2 separate regions of the Homo sapiens genome follow, and region 1 is linked to region 2. A link means that fine-mapping ties the variant in region 2 to the expression of a gene that starts in the linked region. Tissue or cell type: monocytes after Pam3CSK4. Region 2 holds a variant in brackets; the other region holds the start of a gene. All regions are shown on one strand. Distances are from middle to middle.

Region 1 (7,530 bases), 230 kb before region 2:
GGTGGGCCCAGGGGACATGGAGCCGAGCATCACTAACACTCACGCTTGTTACTCTGGTTGGCAGGCCTGTGCCCCCTTATCTAGCTACATAGGTCCCATCTCCTCCTTGAAAGTTCGTTCAAGAGCACCCACTTCTTGGAAGCATTTTCCAACTTATCTCCACCCTACTCCACCTTCAATGTTCTGAATAGCCCTGGATACCCTGGACATGACTCTATAAGAGTACTTATCTCTCTGCTTACTAGATAGAGCTTTCCTGTCTTTCTTAGCAAGAATAGTTCTTTTTCATCATTGCACATGTAGGGCCCAGATTTTTTTAGCACATTACAGGCACTTAACCGATGCCTTAAAATGAATTCAAGTTCACCTTGCTCAGGGACCCACTCAGAGCAAGTGGTCAACAAATGTGGACTCCTTTCCTCCATCTGATTTAGGAGAACAGTCATCTAGTGAGTATACAATATGACAAATATATTCTTTAAACAGAAATGCCAAGGAAGCACAAAGGAGGGAGTAATTAACTGGGACTATACCAATGAGACTATAGTTACCTCATTTGACAGTCTTAATTACTTAGGTTTTTTTTTTTTTTTTTTTTTTTTTTTTTTTTGAGACGGAGTCTCACTCTGTCACCCTGTCTGGGATGCAATGGCATGATCTCAGCTCACTGCAACCTCTGCCTCCCGGGTTCAAGCGATTCTCCTGCCTCAGCCTCTGGAGAAGCTGGGATTACAGGTGCCCACCACCACGCCCGGCAATTTTTTGTATTTTTAGTAGACACGGGGTTTCACCATGTTGGCCAGACTGGTCTCAAACTCCTGACCTTAGGTGATCTACCTGCTCGGCCTCCCAAAGTGCTGGGATTACAGGCGTGAGCCACCGCGCCTGGCCTACTTATAGTTTTAGTTTTCCAGAAGCACTAATAGAGCCATCTGGTGCTCCTTCCACCGCACTGGGCGTTCCCTTTTGAATCTCTCCACCAAAGAGGAAGCCACAGGGAGCTGCGGGACCGAGTGAACCACCCTACCTCAGGCAGAGGTCCCATCTGCAACTCTAGTTTGTTTGCTTCTTTCATTTATTCAACACGTGTTTATCGATGGTCTCATATGGGCCAGCACTGTTCTAAGGAAACAGGCAAAGGTACTGCTGTAATGCAGTTTACCCATGCAGTGGGGAGAGTGGGGGGCAGATAAAAAATAAGCAACCAATCATGTAGGCTACATTAAACAGTGACAAGGGCTATGAAGCAATCAAACAGGATGCGCTATGTTTGGGAGAGGTGGAGGTGGGGTGTAGGTGCCAGAGACAAGCAGATCACATGGTTGGGGAAAACCTATCTGCGGAGCTGACTTCTGGGCTGTGAGCTGCGTGCCAAGAACAGCCATACAAGGGTTCTTCCAGGCAGAGGGGACGGCAGCTACAGTGGGCCTGGAGCAGGACCCTGGGACTCCTGGTGCCCAGCTCAGAGCTGTCCTACTGCTTCTGGCCACGGAGAGAGAATTGCAGAAAAGGAACAATGCTGGGTCTAAAACTGGTATCTGTTCCTTACTTGGAGTAAACGAGCTGGTACCCAACTTTCAGTTCCCAGCAGGTTCATTTCAGGCTTCTGTTTTCGCTCATGAGCATGTTGTTCCCTCTTCAAAGTCTGATTGGGTTTCAAAGGAATCTGAAACACTTACAGCAAAACCACCAAGCTGCATCCTCCAGGTAGACACCCCCGAAATGTGGCATTTCCGTGGGAAACCACAATGAATCACTCATTGGCTGCCCGACCTCTCTGCCCAGTCAGAGATTGATTTTGGTTTTCCCAAACTTTGTAAATCCGCTCCAGACTGTTTAACAACCCCCACTCCCCACTACACCCAGACTCTCAGATTAGGAGCAAAATCCCAAATTTTGTGAGGTTTTCTGTTTCGGATTTCACCAGAAGGGGGTCTGCCACAGCCACTAACCATTTCCTCTGCAGAGAGCCGTTTCTGAAATGCTGCAAAGAAAAACAATCACCCAATGATTAGGAGGGAAATTAAGTTCTAAAGAAAGACTACTGTCTCTGACTTTGAAAGTAGACATAGATATGCACAATATACATCCCACAAATTAAAATCCTCCTTTCTCTGATGTCTTTTAATGGTAATAATAAGGACAAGCATGGCTATCATTTATTTGGGCGTTTCCAATGTGCCAGTCCCTGTCTAAACATTCAGCTTCCAGATCAAACCTATGAGGGTGGAATTAACATCCATTTCATAAATGGAAACTGAGGCTCAGGAAAGTTGAGCGAGTTACTCAAGGTAACATGAGTAGAAAAAAGGCCATATTCCAACCGGACACAGAGCCTGCAGCCCACACAATTACTCTCCATACTGTTCCTATACTATCCTGACTGGGAAGGTCCTGTTCCCTTGGCACTGGGCAAAAATAAAATTATAAGAGCAGAGAGGAAGTGGTGAAAGGGGGCAGCCTGGTGAAATCATTCCTTTACTGAAAATAGGGGTAACGGCCAGGACAGTGCAGGTCCATCCTCTGCAGATGGAAGACAGGCACGTCCTTTGCCGCTGTCCCGGCCTTAGAAAGGCACCTTCCGCGTCCAGGGTTTTCTGTGGATAAATCCCACCCCTTCCACCTCAGGCGGGGAGGAGGCCGGCCGGCCGGGGCATGGGGCGGAAGGCGAAGGACGCCCGACCCCGGCCGAGGTCTGGGGCCCCTCCCACGCCCCCCTCGTGGCTGCCGGCGGGCCAAGGGTTAAGCGAGGCGGGAGCCCCCGGCGCGGAGCGGCTCGGGGCCGGGAATGCTTAGTCAGGATTCCGATTTCCTGTCGAAGTGTTTGGATTTCCTGAAACCCGCGCCCTCCGCCGCCGAGCGGGATCGTGCGAGCCGCTCGCGTCGCCGCGGCCTCCTCCCCCTCGGCACATGGTCGCCCGCCCCTTCCTGCGCCGCGCTCGGCTCCCGCGCCTCGCCTGGCCTGGCCGCTGCCGCGGGCGAGCACTGTGCGCTGGGCAGCCCCGGGCCCGCGCCTCCCGCCCAGCCGGCGCTTCCCGGTCGCAGTTCGCTTTCCCACCCGAGAGCCGCGAGCGCCCGGCCGAACCCGCGATGGAATAATGCCCAGCGGCCCGCCAGGTCCCGGTGAGTTGCGGGGCGCTCGGGCGCGCTCGGCGGGGCCGGGCGGAGTCGCCCACAGTCGCGGGCGCCCCCTGCCCAGTCTCTCGCGCGAAGAAGGGCGCCGGGACGGGGCGCGGGGCGGGCTCCCGGCTCCTCTCGCAGCGGGGTGTCCTTCTCCGCGGGGAGGGCGCCGGCCCTGGGCTGGGGCGTGTGCGGGACGCGCGGCCAGGCTCTGCGGGGCCGGGCGAGGCCGCCCGGTGGGGGGGGGAGGTCTCCTCGCCTCCAGCTCGGGAGAGGGGGCCCCTGCAGTGGGGCCGGGGACGGGGCCCGCCCTGGGGGGTTTCGCGTCCCCCTCCGGGGGAGGGCCCGGGACGACGTGCTTGGCGGCCCGGACCCCGCCGATGGGGCGCCCTCCCGGCATTGTCTCTGGTGCAGCCGAGGAAAGTTCCCCGCGGCCCCCGGCCCCTACCCGGACCCGGCGCTGCTTGGCAGGCCCCAGGCCACTTGCCTAAAGCAAAAGAAGAGAAACGAAAGGGAAGGGGGTGGGGGGAGTCCTACTTGGAGCTTGGGGTTGGCTCCTGGGCGGACCGTGAAGTGGCTTGTGTTTTCTGCTTGTACCATTTTGGGACCTGCTGCGTTTTCTGAGAGCGACATGAAGTTTCAAAGAAAAAAGAAACTTGCCGGTGTCCGGTTTTCTGCGGTTTGATACATCCCAAGAGGTTCATCTTGGGCACTTCTAAAGCAGTTTCCTTTAATAATGTGGTTTTCCAGTAGCTCAGGGAGAAGGATGGTCAACTGCAGACCATCATCGTTAACTTGACCTCAACTTTACCTGTACTCGTCAGGAAAGCAAAAGAACTTTCTCTCGCATTTTCCCCTGTCTACTCTGTTAGGTTATCTTGGCGTGATTGATTCTGGGATGACATCAGGACCTGGATTGCTGAGTAATGTTTTGGGATTGTAAAAGCTTATCAGTTTTTAGGCCAGGGTTATCTGTATTGCAACCTTCATCCCAAAGCCTTTCTGTTTTGCAATTGTAGCGCGGCCAGATAGCTTTAAGAAAATGCGGGTCTTCTGGAAACACCCAGTGAACAGTTTGGAAAGAAAAAGATCTTTGAGAACAACTGATTCACCCCCTTCAGAGAAGGCCCAGAAAGGTGACCTGACTTGCCCAAGATCACATGGCCAGGAGTAGTTTCCACTTCTTCAGGCTCAGTCCCATGCCCCTTCTGTGTTAGATTTTGATCTGTTAGCCATGAAACAGATTTGGAAACGTCTTCTTTGCGTCACAGCCTTCACCACTTTAGTGCCTTCTCTTCTGTCCTGTTAATGCTGCTATTTTTGAGATATGCACTTATTTCAAACTGCATATTTTGAGATAGGGAGTTAAAAAAAACAAAAATCACCTAACGCCACTAAGTGGATTTGGAGATTCAGCTACCAAATGGATTTGAAGTATAAAATGAGTGGCTTATTATACGGGGAATTACTTTCCCTATCCCATTCTTTTGTGCAAAATAGAAACTCCCAGGTCCAAAAAAGGGCAGTATCTTAGCACATAATGTACCCTCTGATGTTCTCTAGACTTGATTTTCAGCCCTCCTGTTTCTTGTGAGCTAAGCAGCCCATCTATTTTTCTCATGAGAGCTCTGAATGGCTGGTTTTTCATTTTTAGTATGTGATAATGTTGGAGAGAAAGGACTTTTCGCAAGCTTGCCATTTGGTGAGGGAAATTGAAATTCTCTACACCTCCCCAGTCCTCACCAGCCACAGCGAGCCAGATTTTCAAAATCAGTGCAAGCCTGGCAGGCCCAAAGATGAATGTGTGCATTCAGATTGAGCCCTCCCTTGTGAAGACTCACGTCCCAGCTGGCATCTCCATGCTGCACCTAGGTGACTGAAGTCTAGAGGAAAGAAGGGAACCCCAGTTAGCTAGGACAGTGTTGTTCCTGCCATTTCCCCACCTAGGTCTCAGCCGTATTTGGATCCTGCTGCTCGGTTCTCATTTTTCCCTGCCGTTTTTTCACCCAACCACTGCTGTATCTGGCATGGGCTCCGGAAGGTCTTTTCTAGGAGACTGCATGAGTGATCCCCACGTGAGCAATAGTAACAGTCACCCCATTTATTAAGCACTTGCTGTATGCCCTAGACATGTTACCTCCTAAGAAGTCCTAAGGAGGAGCGGAAACTTCTTGGGGAGCCTTGCCCAGAAAGGACAGCACATCTCAGATTTATCTGGAATCGAGTTTTTCTTTCATGCATCCAGTGAAACATTTGCTAAGTGGCTTCCCTGTGGGAGGTGCCAGTCCTGCAAAGATGAATAGGACCCTGTTCTCAAGGCCTTCTATTTCCAGCCTCATCTTTCAATGTCAGCCTCACACTTTCTCTTTTAATTCATCAATTGAACAACCATGCATTGAGCACCTGCGCCATGCTAAGCCCTGTGTGGAGTCCTGATGATACAGTGGTGGACGAAATAGACCTGGCACTGCCCTTCTGGAGCTTGCATTCCTCTGGAGGAGATGAGCAACAAGGAAGAAGCAGAAGAAACAACCTCTAACAGATGAGTGATTCCTTGTTATCAAGGAAACAAACCTGGGACCAAAGTAGGGGCTGGTGGCACAAGTTGGTCCTAGTTTTGGAAGGGAAAGCCTTTCTGAGATTGGAAAATGGAGAAGGAACTGGCCAGGCAGAGAGATTGCAGGGGAGGGCCTTCCAGGCAGAGGGATGGGAATGTGCAAAGTTGACTATGCACAAAAGAGCTTGGTGTATTCCAAGGAGTGAGGGAAGGCAGGGCTAGAGTGTAAGGGAGAGATGGGGGGAATGGCGCAAGGTGAGGTTTGAGAGGGAAGCAGGGACGAGATCACACAGCCGATTCTAAGCCATGCTGGGGAGAGTCCCTCCACCCAGTACAAAGGGAAGCTTTGGTGAGTTTAAGCTCAGCAGTGATATCTGATTGACTCTTTTTTTTTTTTTTTTGACAGAGTCTAGGTCTGTTGCCCAGTCTGGAGTGCAGTGGCATGATCTCAGCTCACTGCAACCTCTGCCTCCTGGGTTCAGGTGATTCTCCTGCCTCAGCCTCCTGAGTAGCTGGGATGATAGGCATGCACCACCACACCTGGCTAATTTTTATATTTTTAGTAGAGACGGGGTTTCGCCGTGTTGATCAGGATGGTCTCAAACTCCTGACCTCAGGTGAGCGACCATGGCCAGCCTGATGGACATTTTTGAGATTGCTTTGACTGCTTTTATGAAAAGTGGATGGATCATAGGGGGCAAAGTGTAGAAGCAGGAAGACCACTTAGGAGGAAAGAGGATGGTGGCTTAGAACTGGACAGCAGCAATGGAGGTAGAGAGAAGTGGGAGGAGCCTACTTAGATCTTGGAGATAGCATTGATGAGATCTGGTGATAGATTACATTGGAATGAGGCAAGGGAAAGGACTCAAGGGTGACTCCTGGGGTTCTGGCTTGAACAGCTGGGTGTATGGTGGCGTTGTTGTGGGAGACAGGAAGACTAGGAGGATTATGCTCATGGAGAAAATCAAGTTCTGTATCAGCCATCCTAAATTTGAGATGTCTAGGAGGCATCCTGTGGAGATTTCAGGCAGGCAGGAGGCCTGGACCTCCGAGGAGACTTACAGGCTAGAGACATTATTACCAGCCTGCTGTGGAGCTGCCAGAGTGCTTGCCGGCACATGCCCTGTGTTTCATTTCCCTGAGTGTCTGCTTACGTTCTTCCCCCTGCGGGGGATGCTCTTCCTCTCTCCCAGGCTAATTGCTACTCATCTTTAAAAAGCACCTGTGTCTTTATCTCCTCGAAGATGCTTTTAACTCCCTCCCCTACTCTTAAGTCCCTGTGTTTACCTTCATTGTGTGTTCAACTGAAGTTACCCTTTTTTTTTTAATATCTTATGTGAATGAAACACTTGGTGCTGGCCTTACCAGATAATAAGTGCTCACAGTAAGGGTAAATTCGACAAATGTTAGCTATTATTATTATTATTGATGGGGGTGATAGACATATAAATAAAAATTGCATTACATTAGGGTAAGCATAATGATAGTGTATTAGTTTCTTATTGCTGCGGTAACAAATTACTCCAAACTTAGTGGTTTACATCATACAAGTTTACTATCTTACAGTTCTGGAGGTCAGAAGTCTAGAATGGATCTCACTGGGCTGAAATCAAGGTGTTAGCAGAGGATGTTACTCCTGGCAGCGCTGGGAAGAATTTGTTTCCTTGTCTTTTCCAGTATCAGGAGGCCACTTGCATATCTTGGCTTGTGGTTTCCTTCTTCCACCTCCAAAGCCGGCAGTGTTGGTCTTAATCCTTCTCAAGCTTCCATCTCTCTGATTCTCCCTTCTGGCATCTTCTTCCACCTTGAAGGACCCTTAAAGTGATTCCACTGGGCCACCTGTATAATCTAGG
Region 2 (7,530 bases):
AGTAATACTAGAGTAGTAAATCAGTGATTAGTTTATATTAGTCATTTCCCCACAGAAATGCTGGCAGTTGAAATCGTGATGAAGTGGCCTTTTCTGGTCTAGTTTTTAAAACTAGACCAGATTTCATTCTCATATTATTTCATTCTTGTTTGAACTGAAAGGATTCACCTAGCTGTTAGAATTATCTTGCAGGCCAGGCGTGGTGGCTTACACCTGTAAATCCTAGCACTTTGGGTGGCCAATGTGGGAGGAACACATGAGCCCAGGAGTTGGAGACGAGCCTGGGCAACATGGCAAGACCCCATCTCTACAAAAAATTAAAAATTAGCCGGTCATGATGGCATGTGCCTGTAGTCCCAGCTACTTCAGAGGCTGAGTTGGGAGGATTACTTGAGCCCAGTAGGTTGAGGCTGCAGTGAGCCATGTTCATGCCACTGCACTCCACGCAGGTCTACAATAGCAAGACCTTGTCTCAACATCAGCAACAAAACAATTATCTTGCCTTCTGCAACAATGTCGTGGATGCCAGAAGTTTCTTAGGAATATTGGGAAAGAATGTGTCTTCTTAACGGATGGATCACATTTCTCTGTTCTTTTCTTTTATCCAGTCTTCTTTTCTCACCTACTTACCCTAACTCCCACTGTACTATGTGCCCAAAAGTCTTCTAGCACTCGCATGTAGTAAAGATCTTAAAACAGAGCTGCATCCTGCTCTCTGAAACCTCTTGAAGTGAGTGGGCCATTTTCTGCCTTATCAGTCCGTCTCCTTCAGAAACACTCATTCCTGTGGCAGTGTCCCACCACCGCAGCCTTCTTTCCCTCCTCTTCCCTATACCTCTGAACTGACATTCCCCTCAGATGGCTTACTGTACTCTGCAGTGTGTTCCTCCCTTCTGCCGTTGCCCTTGCTATTTCCTCCACCAGAATCATGGTTCTTTGCTGTCTCACTCTCTGTGCCTGTTGAAAGTCTGCTGGGTAAACCCTTAATTTTGTACACAAGTGTGTGTGTGTTAGGGGACATGTGTGTGATCTTTCTAGTATTGACTTTACTAACTTTATAATACAGTATGTTAAAAAAAAAAAAGACATGTGAGACCTGTGTTTTTATTCTGTTTGATATTACAGACATCGCTCTGTATTGTAAGTAGTCATGGATATATAGCGGTAACAGTAGCTGACATTTTGGGGCACATGCCACATGCCAGACACTATTTTAAGCACCTTACATTTAATTTTCTATCATTCTATTTTCATAGGATTATGATTATTATTGTTATTATTACCCCAAGATATATCTTACTAAACTGTTATATTTTTATGCTAGGAAATTATATATATACACATATATATGTGAGACATGTATATATATGTGAGACATATATGCCAGTATATACACACATACATACATACATATGCATATATATATATATATGGAAAGAGACTACATGGTTATTCAGCTGTGGAATTAGCAAAACATACAGGACCCATGACCTAGCCTATACTTATCTAGTCTTCTGCCTCACTCACGTCACATTTCATGTTTCATCTACCTAATAAGCATAATTCTTCCCTTGCAGAACTAGTGGGGGTGAAATATGAGATTGTAGAAAGCATAAGGATTTGGGTCACAGAAGGTTCTGAGCTTCTCCCAACACCTTCTTCCTATGGCCTGTCTCTGCCTTAGCCTTTAGCCAACTCCATCTTATTCTTTAATGAGTCTGTCATCACAGATAGATGGAGAGCTTCTTGTAATTCTTTCTAACCTTTGCATGAAATTTCAATTCAGGATAATGGCTGTGTCTAGGGAGGGAAGGAAGGAGATCGGAATTGGGTAGAGGGACAGGAGTAGGGGAATAGGGAATCATTCTTTAATATTTTATTTATTAAGCTGGGTGGCGCATACATGTATATTCGATTAACTAATTATATTTTTCACTTGAAATATTTGATAGTCTCAAGAAAGCAGCCTATATACCTATTTTTACTACTGAGGTGCTTCCCTTGGGAGCAGGTAAAATGAACACACAGCTGAATTCTTTTTTCATAGGTCTCCAAAATCAGAAAAGGATATCAGATGAGGTAGGAGTCTTGGTGGTAAGGTGGGACCTCTTTGGCCTCAGACAGAAGGTATCAGGAGTAGCTCCAGCACATGAGGGAGATGAAACCTGTGTGTCTTCTCGGTTGAGCTCGTGTGGCCTTTCTTTTCTGTTTTTCTGAGCCGCTCCTCTGAGTGAACTTGGATAGTAACCAGAGCTGCATTTTTTAATATCTCAGCCTGAGATGCTGACAACCACTGCAGGCACCATGAATTTTTAATGTGGTGGTGATTAGAAGGCTGGCTAGGGCCTCATTTCGTTTCATTGGACTGCTGTGACACTTGTTTCCTTCATGGTATTTAGACTTCCTGGGTTATTTCCCAATCCAGACTCATGTTCTGTTTCATGAGTGCCCATTGCACCCATGCACTTATTGAGGTGTGTTTGAAAGCAGAATTTAAAAATTTGATCTCAGTTATTGAACATCCTACGCTATTTCAGAAAGGGATGCTTCTTAAATTCCTGAAAAGGAATTCAATAAATCCAGGTCAACAAATATTAACCAAGCCGCAGCTTTGAAAGTCCAGCTCACTGAAAGAACTACAGCAGTGTCCATTGGGTAGGGATGCAGAAGTGAACCATAGGTAATCCCTGCCTCTTGCGGTCTGGTGGTAGGAAAAGATCTGTGTGTGTGTGTGTGTGTGTGTACATATATACACACATATATACACATATATACACATATAATATACATATATACGTGTGTATATATACGTGTATATATACATATATACACATATAGGATGTGGTAGAAAATACTGCAGTAGAGGTACAGAGAATTGTGGGCAAGGAAGGATTGTTTCCAACTAAAGGAAGACTTTATAAAGAAAAGTAATTTATTGTAAAGCCTTTAAAAATATGACCAAAAAAAACCAAAAAAAAAGATATGACTTTGATAAATATCTATTTATTCATTTATTCATTATGTAAATACTATGCATCTACTGTGGGCCTCCCTACAAATTCATGCTTCTCTGTGCGCCACAACAGAGGAGGGAGGTGGAGAGTTGAGTACAGGCATCTGAAATGCTTCCAAGAGAACGTGGTATGCATCACTTCCACTCACATGGCCTTGGATGGTGCATGCCATATTTCCTGCCTTACTTTGAGAGTATGGGGAAATGCAGTACTCCTTTCTGTAACCCTGCAAGGATTGGGAACTTGGATATCCATGGCAAGTGGTAATGTCTGCCACAAGAGTCACAAGATCTGATGCACAGTATAACAGTGTTGCATTGGATGCTGTGTTGGTACCAGACTGCTGGGAGGCAAAAGTAGCAACAGAGAGACCATTTCAGAAGCAGAGTGTATTTGCCATTGCCACAGATAGGGGACTGTGAGAAAAAGAATGGGAAGAAGATCAAGAGTTTGGTTTTAGACATGTTAAGATTCAACATAGTTAGTGGAGATACTGAATAGGTAGTTGAATATATGTCTGTATTACAGAGGGTGGGTTTTTCTGGGCTGGGGATATCAATTTAGGAGTTATCAGCTGATAGAAAGTATTTAAAGCCGTAAGACTGAGATCCCAAGAGAGTAAGCAAAAATAGAGAAGAAAGGTCCAAGACTGAGGGGCCTCAACATGATGAGGTCAGAGAGATGAAGAACCAGCAAAGACAATGGAGAGGACCAGTCGTGAGGCAAGAGGACACTCAAGAAAGTGTGATATCCTGGAAGCCAGACAAAGAACATGTTTCAAGGCAGTGGGGGTTATTGTTTATGCAGTATTTGCTCTACTGAGAAACTTTTATATACTTTATGTCAGCTCATCAATACCACAATTCTGTAAGTTAGATATTGGACTCATTTTATGGATTGGAAAACAAAAGCTCAGGGAGGAGAAATTTTCACAAATTAATGTTTCTCATGTGCACCTAATTCATCTGATCCAATTCTGAACATTTTGCAGCAAGAGCTGGACTGTGAAAAGCATTTTACAAATACTATTCCTCAGACCTGGAACTTAGACAAAATTAAAGGAAATGAAGATTAGTTGCAGGGAAAGAAACCTGTTAGGACACATGAATTTTTCTTTTGCAATCCAAGATTGTTTTTCCAAGGAGAATTTTCTACTTTTTCAGGTAATCATAGTTTCTTTCTTCCTTTTCCCTTTCCTTTCCTTTTTCCTTTTCTTTCTTTTCCTTTCCTTTTTCCTTTCCTTTCCTTTTTCCTTTCCTTTCCTTTCCTTTCCTTT[CCTTTCCTTTCCTTTT/T]TCTTTTTCTTTTTCTTTCCCCTTTCCCCTTTCCTTTCTTTCTTTTTTTTTGGAGATAGGGTCTCATTCTATCACCCAGGCTGGGTGCAGTGGCACAAGCACAGCTCACTGTAGCCTCGACTTCCCAGTCTCCAGCAGTCCTCCTGCCTCAGCCTCCCAAGTAGCTGAGACCACAGGTGCATGCCACAATACCCAGCTAATTGTTTTTTGTTGTTGTTGTTGTTGTTGTTTTGAGACAGAGTCTCACTCTGTTGCTCAGGCTGGAGTGCAGTGACGCGGTCTCGGCTCACTGCAAGCTCCGCCTCCCAGGTTCACACCATTCTCCTGCCTCCGCCTCCCGAGTAGCTGGGATTACAGGCACCCGCTACTACACCTGGCTAACTTTTTTGTATTTTTAGTAGAGATGGGGTTTCACCGTGTTAGTCAGGATGGTCTCGATCTCCTGACCTCGTGATCGGCCCGCCTTGGCCTCCCAAAGTGCTGGGATTATAGGCGTGAGCCACCGCTCCCGGCCCTACACCCAGCTAATTGTTAATTTTTTGTAGAGACGGGGTCTCGCCATGTTGCCCAGGCTGGTCTTGAACTCCTGGGCTCAAGCGACCTGCCTACGTTAGCCTCCCAAAGTTCTAGGATTACAGGCGTGAGCCACCATACCCAGTCAATCATAGTTTCTTAATTGCTTGAAAATGTGATGTAATTTGACCCCTCAGCCTATGAGGAATTAGTGGATTAACTGGACTATAAATGAGCTAAATTCTATGAAAGAAAAAGGGAAAGGCGAGGTGCGGTGGCTCACACCTGTAATCCCAGCACTTTTGGAGGCCGAGGTGGGCGGATCACAAGGTCAGGAGTTTGAGACCAGCCTCACCAACTTGGTGAAACCCTGTCTCTACTAAAAATACAAAAAATTAGCCGGGCATGGTGGCATGCATCTTTAATCCCAGCTACTCAAGAGGCTGAGGCAGGAGAATCACTTGATCCTGGGAGGCGGAGGGTGCAGTGAGCCGAGATTGTGCCATTGCACTCCAGCCTGGGAGACAGAGTGAGACTCTGTCTCAAAAAAAAAGAAAAAAAGATAAAAGGGAAAATCTTCCTTAGTAGAGTGAGTTAGAATATTTAGTGTACTCCTAACCTAACCTTTGGGACATGTGCAATAAATAATTGATACAGTTTATGCTTCCATTTTGAGAATTCGTAGTGATCGGTGTTCAAAGTAACTTTTCATTGTGGCAAATAATAGTTCAGACTCCTTTCTTCTTCTTTTTTGTTTTTAGATCATGTACAAAATGAAGAAAACTATGCACAAGTTCTTGATAAGTTTGGGAGTAATTTTTTAAGTCGAGACAACCCCGACCTTGGCACCGCGTTTGTCAAGTTTTCTACTCTTACAAAGGAACTGTCCACACTGCTGAAAAATCTGGTAAGACATTTCATATGTGAGTAAAAAGAATTACAGCCTTTCCAAAATATTACGTCATATAGAGAACATTTCAATAATCCTTCCCCCTCAATCCTTGGTCCTAGGGGTGAGAAAGAAAAAACAAAAAGCTTTTTAGTCCTAGGTAACTTCCACACCTCAACTAAAAAGCTTTTTAGTCGCCTAGGATTTGCTTAAAGAAAATCCCATTGTGAAATTCCTGGAATTTGTACCTTTGGCCCAGCTGATAGAGTAGATTTATCGAAGCTGAGAGAGAAACTGCTTAACCTGAATTCTCTTCCACATCTCTACCATTGATTTTTTTTTAAAGATAACCTTTAGCAACTTTTGCTTTTTAATTGGCTAAAAGAATGATGATTTCTGTGTCGAACATACATTGGAAATACACATTGAAAGTATTATATCTCACTTGTGTGAAGGTGATCATGCATTTTGGTTTCTGATATATAAATAATGAACCTCCCTCAACTCCCCACATCCTTTTAACCCCCAACCAAGAAAAGGGTTTTGAGATTTAAGGAATCTCTGGTTTCCAAAGTAAATGACAGGAAGAATCCCTAACGATCTGAGACACTAGAGGTGCTGGCCCCGGGAGGCAGACCCAGGGATGGGGGTGGTGGAGGAAACTGTTTGCCAGGCAGTCGTGTGTGGGCATCCCCATGTTGTGCTGCAACCCCCTCCCCAGCCCTCATACCATGTGCACACTTAGAAAGGTTCTGGGTAACACCACCTGGACGGATCATTTGGATTTTGTTGGTTTTGGGGGATGAAATTATTTCTCTAAGAGCCACCCAGTGAAATAATTTAATCCTCCTAAGTCCCCAGAGAAAGGAGTACAATGAGGTTGAAAGGTGCCAAAGGAAAACTATTTATATCATGCTTTTCCAAGTTAGCCCTGCCCTGGAGAAGAGGAGCTGTTCCCTCTTCTCTCCCAGTCTCTTGGTATTGTGCTTTTACCTCCTTTAAGGATCCAGAACTCATTCTCAAGATGTCCTTAACCTAGGTCAGTTATTCATGTATCACATAGGCTTCTGTGGCCTTAGGTGATAATTTGTCATAATCCATTAGATACAAAAGGTTAGTTTACAGATGAAGATAACCTATTTGAAAAATGAAAACTACCTTTCTACACTCCATTAACCTATTTGGCCAGTTACAATATTCTTTTTCTCTGTCACAATAAATAAACGTGTGTATGTGTCTGTCTTCCTGACAGTTTTTCTAATTGGCGATGTATGCCATTGAATTAATCTTACACAGCGAATAAGCAAATCTGAAAGAAAATAAATATCGAACATAGAATTATTTATTATTTTCAAAAACTTCGGAAAGGATAATTTTGAACTTTGGCTCTAATGTTTCTGTGCTTTTGGATTTAACAAATCCATGTTTTTGTAAATCTTAGATTATATAAACCTCATTTATTCAGAAGAGCACCCTCGGTTTTCCTTCACTCTGAGCATTGCCTGCACTTTCACTGGAGGCCTTGCTCAAAGTGTGGTGTGGTAGAAAGAGAGGAAGCAAAACAAGACTGACAGTTCACTTTGGTAATAGCTGGTAAAGGACTTGCTTGGGCAGGAAGATCTGTTTTCTCTGAGATGGGTGTTTTCGCATTGATGTCTTGCTTTAGTTTCCAAGGACCAAATGTATTGGCTTAAGTCAAGAGTCATCACCTCCAAGGTTCCTGGACCAATCTCATCTCTACGGTTTGCTACGCTGCAGGTTCCTTTCAACTGTGTGTATATGTGCCATACACACAGCTCAGTGGCCATTCAGGCCAACATTCA

Which allele goes with the higher level. Positions count from the first base shown, and alleles are read on the strand shown. Sizes are in standard deviations (SD) of each study's normalised expression.
For the expression in monocytes after Pam3CSK4 of the gene that starts at base 2,909 in region 1, T is the high allele of the variant in region 2 and CCTTTCCTTTCCTTTT is the other (large effect, 1.4 SD a copy in Quach 2016).

What was found. PIP is the estimated chance that this variant, and not a neighbour inherited with it, causes the effect.
Region 1: ASAP1 starts here. The variant in region 2 is fine-mapped to the expression of ASAP1 in monocytes after Pam3CSK4 (Quach 2016, PIP 0.95).

The regions. Positions count from the first base shown.
Region 1 is chr8:130,439,053-130,446,582 of GRCh38, reverse strand. ASAP1 (ArfGAP with SH3 domain, ankyrin repeat and PH domain 1) reads left to right here and starts at 2,909. Exons shown (of 30, transcript NM_018482.4): 1 at 2,909-3,123. RefSeq lists silencers at 2,825-2,924, 2,965-3,054, 3,065-3,224, 3,275-3,354.
Region 2 is chr8:130,212,751-130,220,280 of GRCh38, reverse strand. It overlaps ASAP1 (ArfGAP with SH3 domain, ankyrin repeat and PH domain 1), which reads left to right. Exons shown (of 30, transcript NM_018482.4): 5 at 5,580-5,725. Among named protein-coding and RNA genes, the nearest start is that of ASAP1-IT1, 80 kb to the left of the region's middle. The variant CCTTTCCTTTCCTTTT/T (reference allele first, on the strand shown) is at 4,291.